Homo sapiens: one gene and its partner. The gene in region 1 interacts genetically with each later gene. Each region holds a gene or a part of one and is shown in the gene's direction. Other genes may lie near its edges. The genes, in order: SLC35C1 and TRPC6.

Evidence for each region.
Region 2: changes in SLC35C1 (region 1) and TRPC6 together harm fitness less than expected from each alone (positive genetic interaction), as found in Homo sapiens cells (one large-scale study listed by BioGRID).

What each region holds. Positions count from the first base shown.
Region 1 is NC_000011.10:45,803,958-45,808,259, forward strand, and holds the start of SLC35C1 (GDP-fucose transporter 1), read left to right. Parts: upstream 1-1,191; 5' UTR 1,192-1,844; coding exon 1,845-2,379; intron 2,380-4,178; coding exon of another isoform or gene 4,179-4,222; exon of another isoform or gene 4,223-4,302. UniProt on the Homo sapiens protein: Antiporter specific for GDP-l-fucose and depending on the concomitant reverse transport of GMP. Involved in GDP-fucose import from the cytoplasm into the Golgi lumen.
Region 2 is NC_000011.10:101,450,906-101,455,161, reverse strand, and holds the end of TRPC6 (short transient receptor potential channel 6), read left to right. Parts: intron 1-56; coding exon of another isoform or gene 57-60; coding exon 61-144; intron 145-1,436; coding exon 1,437-1,512; intron 1,513-2,055; coding exon 2,056-2,207; 3' UTR 2,208-3,598; downstream 3,599-4,256. UniProt on the Homo sapiens protein: Forms a receptor-activated non-selective calcium permeant cation channel. Probably is operated by a phosphatidylinositol second messenger system activated by receptor tyrosine kinases or G-protein coupled receptors.

The sequences.
Region 1 (4,302 bases):
TGGTCTCCCCGGCTGCCTGGTGAGTGGCAGACCACAGGCTAGACTTCCCAGGCCCCGGCCCTGGAAGGGGCGGGGAACCCTCCCCCTCACTGCCAGCTGGAAGAATCCGAGCGGTCCCCGCACGCACTTCTGGAAGTGCAAGCCGGTAGCGCGGCGGGCCAGGGATACAGCCAAGTCCCGGGACGTGCCAGCTGCGGTAACTGAAGCCGGGTCCCGGGCGGGCGGGGGTACCAGGGACAGGAGTAGCCTTGGAAAGAGGAGAGGGCCTCCTCCCACGACCGTCCGGATCACCGCCTCTCCGCCGGCACCCCCGGGGCCCATGCCGCGAACAGGCCGGCGAGGCTGGCAAGGTGCCCGGGCCCGGGGCGGAAAGCAGGAAGTCGATCCCGCGGGCGCGGCCCAGGGTGCGGCGCTGCAGATGCAGCACGGGGTCGCGGGGCGGGCGCCCAGTGCACCGGAGGAGGTGAGCGCCAGGTCGCCTTCGCGGCCCGGGGACACAGGCAGGGACGCGGGAGCTGATGCGGCTGGACCGGCCGGGGAAACAGTATTTTCTGGAAGGGGTAAGAGATGCTGTCTTGAGCCTTTGGAATCTCGGATCCGGGCCGCCCAGAGGACCTCGACAGGAGCACAGGGAGGACAAACTGAAGTCCGAGAGAGGCGGCGTGGCCTCCGGCCTCGGGGAGCGCTGCCGGGGGTCTCGGGCTTGGGAGAGGGCCTGGGGGCGGTGAAAATGGGGGGAAAGGAGGGGACCACAACATTGTTATGGAAGAGTGAGCTCGGATTGGCAGAGGGACGCGGGGCTGCAACGCGAGTCTCCGGAGGTGGAGGGGTCCAGGCTGATGTAGCGCCGCCCGGGTCCTGGGTCGGGGTTCCGGGAAGTGGACCTGCGAGCCAAGCCTAGCCAAGTCGGGGGACGGAGGCTCCGGGGCGGACGGAGCTGAGGGTGGGCAGGCGAGGTTGATGGAGCCCTTCCAGGAAGCAGGGCGAGGCTCAAGCACCCAGAAAAACCTGTGGCTGCCGAGGTCCCCCGCCAGCAGCGGGCAGCGGAGCGCAGGGGCGGGGCTGGGGACTGGCGAACTCCGCCTCTCTGGGGCTGTCGCTTTAAGGGCAAGGCGGGGCGTGCGGGCCCTTTAAGGCCACGTGGGGGCGTGTCAGGAAGTGAGTCCAGGGCCCGCCTCCCGGGGAGTCGGCCTCGGATGTCCGGAGGCTCCTGGGCTGAGCCGGCGACAGAGCCCGGGAAGGCAGCGAGACGTGGGCGCCGGCCCAGCCCCCTCCCGCGTCCTTCAGCCCCAAGCCCCGAGCCCCTCTGACCCTTCCGCAGCCCTCCCTCCAGCCGCGCCCGGCCTCCGGCAGCTCCCTGTACGCCTCCCTCCCCCTGCCCGCCCCTCCCTCCCACAGCCGCCCATGACGCCCTCTCGGCACCTCTTCCCACTCTGCCACGCGTCCTTTTCCTGCACCTTCGCCCCGCGTACCTACTCCTGCCCCGCCCTGCCATTCCTCTCCCCTCCCTTCTCTCTGCGACCCCTCCCTGTTAGGCCCCAGCCTCTTCTCCCCTCACAGGTCTTCTCTGTCCTGGCCTCACCGCCTTATCCTATTCCTCTCCCTTGCCCTGTGTCTTGTCTCAGAGCCCCCTCGGGGTGGGAGTAGGTTGTGGAGCAGCACAACTGGGCTCACCCCAAAGCAGAACTTCTCAATCCATGAGGACAATGGGGAGGCCTTTAGGCCAGCCCACATGTGACAATGGAGGGCTGCGGCTTCCTTGCGGAGAGCACAAGTGAGCTCACTGCCCTGGACTCCAGGGAATCAGAGTTCTGGCCGCGGGGTGACCCAGCTCCTCTGCTACCATGAATAGGGCCCCTCTGAAGCGGTCCAGGATCCTGCACATGGCGCTGACCGGGGCCTCAGACCCCTCTGCAGAGGCAGAGGCCAACGGGGAGAAGCCCTTTCTGCTGCGGGCATTGCAGATCGCGCTGGTGGTCTCCCTCTACTGGGTCACCTCCATCTCCATGGTGTTCCTTAATAAGTACCTGCTGGACAGCCCCTCCCTGCGGCTGGACACCCCCATCTTCGTCACCTTCTACCAGTGCCTGGTGACCACGCTGCTGTGCAAAGGCCTCAGCGCTCTGGCCGCCTGCTGCCCTGGTGCCGTGGACTTCCCCAGCTTGCGCCTGGACCTCAGGGTGGCCCGCAGCGTCCTGCCCCTGTCGGTGGTCTTCATCGGCATGATCACCTTCAATAACCTCTGCCTCAAGTACGTCGGTGTGGCCTTCTACAATGTGGGCCGCTCACTCACCACCGTCTTCAACGTGCTGCTCTCCTACCTGCTGCTCAAGCAGACCACCTCCTTCTATGCCCTGCTCACCTGCGGTATCATCATCGGTGAGTGGCAGCTGGGGCCACGGGGGATAGAGTGGTCATGGGGACTGAAGCAGTGAAGAACAACTCTTCTAGGCATCCTAGGACTTCATCTGTCCCAGCTCCTTTGGTGCAGCAGTCATAGGAGAAAGAGCCTGGGGGCACAGAGAGAGCAAGTAACTTACTAAAGGTCACCCAGCAAGTTAGGAGCCCAGCCGGGGCAAGAACAATAGTAATAATAATAGTAACAACAGCAGCAAAAGCAACTGACATTTGTTGAGTGATTAAAATGTGCCAGGCACATGGATCTTAGCCATATTAACTCAGCTAATCTTCATAACAAGATGGGATTATAATCCACATTTTACAGAGGGAAAAACCAAGGCACAGAGAAGTTAACTAACTTGTCCAAGATCACCCAGCTAATAAGTGGCAGAGCTGGGATCTGAACTCAAGCAATCTGGCTTCACAGTTCACATGCCCGACCACTGTACTTTATTGTTTCTCAAGAGCTCAGGTGTCCTGATTTCCCAGCCAGTGCTCTTAGTAGAGGACAATACGTCTTTTAATAAATATACCATCACTCTCTGCCAGCTCAGGATAGCGCCTGAGACAGTAGCAAGCAATATGCTTTGAGAGGCCTCAGCTGTCTTCCTGGACTTGACCCTCAGAAAATAATAATTATTGATGGGGAAATTATGCTAATTATTTCACATATAGCATCTCCTTTGTTCTCCCAGAGATCCCCTGGGTTGTGGCATCACTACCAGCGGTCATCTCTATACAAACAAGGAAACTGAGGCTCAGAGATGTTACATTACTTGCCCACGGCCACACAGCTAGCAAGCAGCCAGGCTGGGATGCAAACCCAGATTGGCCAGACTCCCAGGCCTGTGCTTCTATCCCCTCTGCTCGTCTTGGAGGTTAGAACTGCAGTATTCAATGCAGTAGCCATTGGCCACTTATTTAAATTAGTTAAAATTAAGCAAAATGTTAAACATTCACTTCCTCATTTGCAGATGTTACAACCTGATTTTCTAGCCACATTTCAAGGGCTCAGTAGCCAAATGTGGCTGAGGGCTATGGTATGGGACAGCACAGGTTAGATGGGCCCATATTTTACTGGGCCCCATGCTGCGTTAGAGAGCCTCCAGCATCCCATTCCCTCCGAGTCTTCCCAGGGCTGCGTCATCTAGGAATGGGGTCTTCATTTGAACCTATGCTGGTTTTTCCTGGTGCTATAAAGTTTATCTTATTTGGCCTACATATCATATTCTTTGCTGATGGCTCAGGGTCCCAGGCTAGATGCACCGGTTGGTGGGGGAAGGGACCCATCCCATGCCACCTGTCCTAGAAAATGTTTCCCCTTGTTGAGCAGCTGCTGGATCTAGGGCTGCTGGGTCTAAGTCCAAGAGGGGAGAAGGGAGAAGGTCACAGTTAGAGTAGGGGAAGCTGCAAGACCCCCCCTGCCAGAACTCTCCCAGCCTGCTTCCATTTCCCTCTCCAGGGAACAGGTGTACCTCCCCTCCTCCCTGTCCTCCTCAGATGCCCCAGGGCTCTCTACTTCATTCCTGCTGACCCTGCCAGGAGTGGCCTCAGGGGTAGAGGCTCCTAGTTGGAGAATTTGCTTGCAGGAAGGTGAAGACACTAGGGTAACTGGGCCCAAATCCCAAAGGTAATCCAAGTAACCAGTGGTGAGGTTCTGAGAATGGTGCATTCACGGGCGTGCCTGACTGGGACAGGGGCCAGGGAGGTGGACGCTCTCTGCCAGCCCAGGACCTGGCTCCCTATCTGCAATGTTTCCTCTTTCTTCCTCCTTGTAGGGGAAGACGAGTCTCAGGCAACTATTCTAGGCCTCCCCTCCTAGCCCCCCATGTCACACAGTAACTTTCAAAGCTCCTTCTGGGCCAGGCACAGTGGCTCATGCCTGTAATCCCAGCACTTTGG
Region 2 (4,256 bases), about 56 Mb from region 1:
CTACTTTATTTAAAAGAAAATGTAAGTAGGAATCCATTTCTAAATCTTTTCAAATTACAGGTTGGGCACAATAAACAACCAAGTATAAGGAGCTCAGAAGATTTCCATCTAAATAGTTTCAATAATCCTCCAAGACAATATCAGGTAAGCATGGATTTTTAAAGGAATAAAACTAGTTACTTGTAATATTTAGGTTCTTGAACTATGTGATTCTTTAAAGTATCAGGATATTTTTCTCAATATCAAATAATGCATTAATTCAATAAATATTTATTAATTACCATGTACCAGGCATTTTGTAAGTGACAGAGATATATAAGTTAAAAAAAATAAAGTATTGGAATCACAGATCTGAAAGTCTCCATTAAAAAAGAGAGTGTTCATTGAAAAGGCAAACCTTACAAAAAACATAAAGACGACAGTAAAATTCATGTCAGATTCCACCAGTGAGAAACAAAGTCTGCTTGCTTTTGGTGAAAATTCTGCCAGATGATTATATGCCTATATGTGCATAATTTTACATATATTTTAATATTATTATAAAATGCATATATAATACTATATAAATCAGCTAATACTTATATAATGAGTAATAGTTTTTAGCTTGTGATTTTCTCTCCACAAAATATATATTCCTATTAATTTCAGTGAATGTATCATATTCCTTCATACAAATATATAATTTACTAAAAATAATTCCTTACTGATGAACATTTAAAGTTTCATTTTTGTCTATTATATAACTAGTTCTATGAACATACTTGTTAATGTACTAAATCATATCTTTAGAATAGATTCTTGAAGGTAGAGTTTTACTATCTACCATTTAACCTTGGCTTAGGTGTAAAATTTTATTTAGTTCTATATCCATCAAGACTTTCTGAGCACCCACTAAGACTCCTTCTTTTTATGAAAAATATATAATAAAAGCAATGTTTGCATGATAGAAGCCCAGGTACTTGAAAAATATATTACATTGAAACTAGCATTCCTAAATTAATAGAAAGTTTAAAATAAAAATTGGTTCCATTTTTTGGTGGGTCAGACGTGGGGCTTAAATGAGCAGACATTAGCTTAATTTCCCATTTCCACGAGCAGTAGTGTACATCTTTTACCTACCCCACTGAAAGACTGTCTTACTCTAATACTTTTCAAATAAAATACAAGCAATGGACATAAAGGATTTCATACTTGCTCTAAACATTCTTTTCTAAGAACTCACTTTTGAGTCATTAGCCTAGGTGATGTGAAAACTGCTTTAAAAAGGAAAGCAAAATGTAGAGATCGCCTGCATCCTGGCTGAATCATCTTAGTCCTTGACAGCCATCACTTCCAAAGGGCTCACTACAGGGAGGAAGACTCTGAAACTTGTTCCAAATGAGAGATTTGTCATGAACCTGAAACTGACATAGATTTCTCCTTTCTCTGTTTTCTAGAAAATAATGAAAAGGCTCATTAAAAGATATGTACTGCAGGCCCAGATAGATAAGGAGAGTGATGAAGTGAACGAAGGTGAGTTGAACGCAGAAGCAAATCAGCCCCTGAATGTGAGTCAGGACGGGGGCCTAGCGCAGAGTGCCTGGAGAGCTGCAGAGATGCGTACAGGGAGAGTGAACTTCAAGGGGAAAAGTAGAACAGGATCTCACCAACCGCCGTTCTGTTAAAGAGTGGGGAACAGGCTATGTCTCCACAGGCGGGGACAGGTGCCACTTGCTAGATAAAAAGCTCTCATTCTTATGGTGGACTTGGAGGGAGGAGGAAGTGGGTGGGAAAGGCAAGGAAGGGGCTGCTGCCTCAACCCCTGAATCATTCACCACCTTTTTGTTTTAACTTACTTTAGGAGGGCTTTTGTTATCATTCTGCTATAATCTCTTCATTCACAAAAACACTTAGCTAAGAAAACAAAAACCTGCTCAATTAGGAAGTTATTTCCTTTCAAAGGATTCAAAATAAAATTGTGTGTGAAATTAGAGCTGATTTCCTCCTGTCCCACAGTCACTAGTTTTTCCGCATTGCGTATTTATAGTTGACTTCTTATCACTCTTGCTTTCAAAGGGGAACTGAAGGAAATTAAGCAGGACATCTCAAGTCTCCGCTATGAACTCCTTGAAGAAAAATCTCAGAATACAGAAGACCTAGCAGAACTTATTAGAGAACTTGGAGAGAAATTATCCATGGAACCAAATCAAGAGGAAACCAATAGATAATGCGAAGACTTCCTTAGAAATTCATATTTATTTGTCCACTTGAAGCCATATTATTTTCTGATTTATTTTCTTAAGTGCCAATGGGCCCACCTTTTAAACAAGAAAACGTTAAATAACTTGGGCCATCCTATCATCTGGAGCCCTAGTATCTAATTTTTTTGGTGATTAAACTCCATTGTTCAGGGTAAAGGCTGTAGATAATGAGGAAAATTATGCCCAGTTGTTTGGTGCTTGTTTTATAAACTGCTTTCTTGGATATAACTAACTCTTGTGATGATGTCATTGCCATGTAGTGTCTGCCTGAAAATGGGTCCCAGCGGACAGGGGCTGACCCACGTTACTCCCCATGCGGTTTTTCCTCTGAAGTTTATTTCAGGTTCCTTCTTGCCTGCTCTGTGGATCCCCTGCTGGGGACTCCCAGCTCTGAAATTTGGGAAAAAGTAGCCCATGGGCCTTTAGAATGCTTTAATCCTTTCTTTAGAATGCTGTTTAAACACCATTTACCCTACTTATCCCTCAATGCACATGATTGATACCGTTCATACAAAATGGTCTTACATCTATGTAAAATTTTCTGATTCATCTATTTGAAAACATTACACTTAACAATGAAAAAAGTTTTTCCTCCACTGAACCCTGGAAACATGGTCCAGTTTTGTGTGTGTGCGTGTGTGTAAATGTGTACACACAGACATAAAGTACTTGCCCTAGTTTGTGGCTAATGTGGACACACAAAAGCTCTTTATGTTATAAATTTTTATTGTCACTAAAAAATTTTACTGTCTAAATAAGTACCTTTTATTGGAGAAAAATCAAAACCCCAAACAAACACTGTGGTTGTTTGGTTCCATTATAGCACAATTTTGTGCCATTTCTGGGAGCATTTACAGATGAATCCCCACACTTAGCCATTGAATGTAAAGGGGAAAAATAAGGTGAGAATTTGTAAATACTTATCTGTTATTTTCAATATGTTCTATCCTTCTACCCAAATATATAAAACAGGAATTTGCATTCATGTGCATTTACCAAGAGGTTGTTGTTGTTACTTACTGATCATGTGAAGTGGTGTCTTAAACAACTAAAAGCGATGAAGGTTCATATGTTTACTCAAAGACCATTGGCATTCAGAGGATGCTGGACATTAACTGGAACTGCTACTTCCAATTCAATAATGGGAGATTTCAAATGCAAATCTTTAACTTCATCTTAAAGATGAAATGGTTGCAGAAAATCTGTTTAGCTCCAACTTTGGCTTAATTTAAATCAAAGAACATTTATGTAACCAGATCAGAAAATACAGCTGAAAATTTATATTCAGTGATTTTGTATTTGTGGATACTACTTATGGAAAAGTTACTTGGTGATACATAAAGATCGATTTTCAAATATTTTGTGACAGTATTTGAATCAGCAGTTGTAAAAAATCAACCTCATACTGAATGCACTATCAGCAAATTAAAATAATCTAACATCCACAAAAAAGTGTGTGTTGTGCCATGCGAGAGATGGACCTTCATCCCAAGGATGCTCTATGACAGCACATGGTCTTGACTCCAGAAGACTCAAGAAAAGATATTCAGATTCCTCAGTGTCTTTTAAGTTGGATTGACTTGACAAGATATAAGTTTTGGGAAACTCAACAGGCATGACTGTGGGTTCCTCAGCAAAAGGCACTACCCTCCTGGTGGCTCTTATGGTTCAAACTAATGTCCTGAAGTCAGATTTTCATCAAAGTGCAACTGAATTGACATCTCTTCGAATTTCATCTTCCAACTTAGAATAATTGGCATTTCTTCTAAGTTGGAAGATGAAAAAGGAAATTAAACGCATTTTAAGAAAGCTTTTAAAATTCTGATAAGAGCTTCATTACAGGCACATCGCCAAAAGATGGTCATAAGCATGGGAAAAGTCTCAAGACCACTGGCTTTAAATCCTACCTTCACGTCGCAGTCGGCTTCATCTTTGAAACTAAGATGATAAGTTGAAACGTTTTTATCCCAGTTGCTCTCCTGTCCTATTTCTCCCCTCTGAGTGGATGCTTTCTGG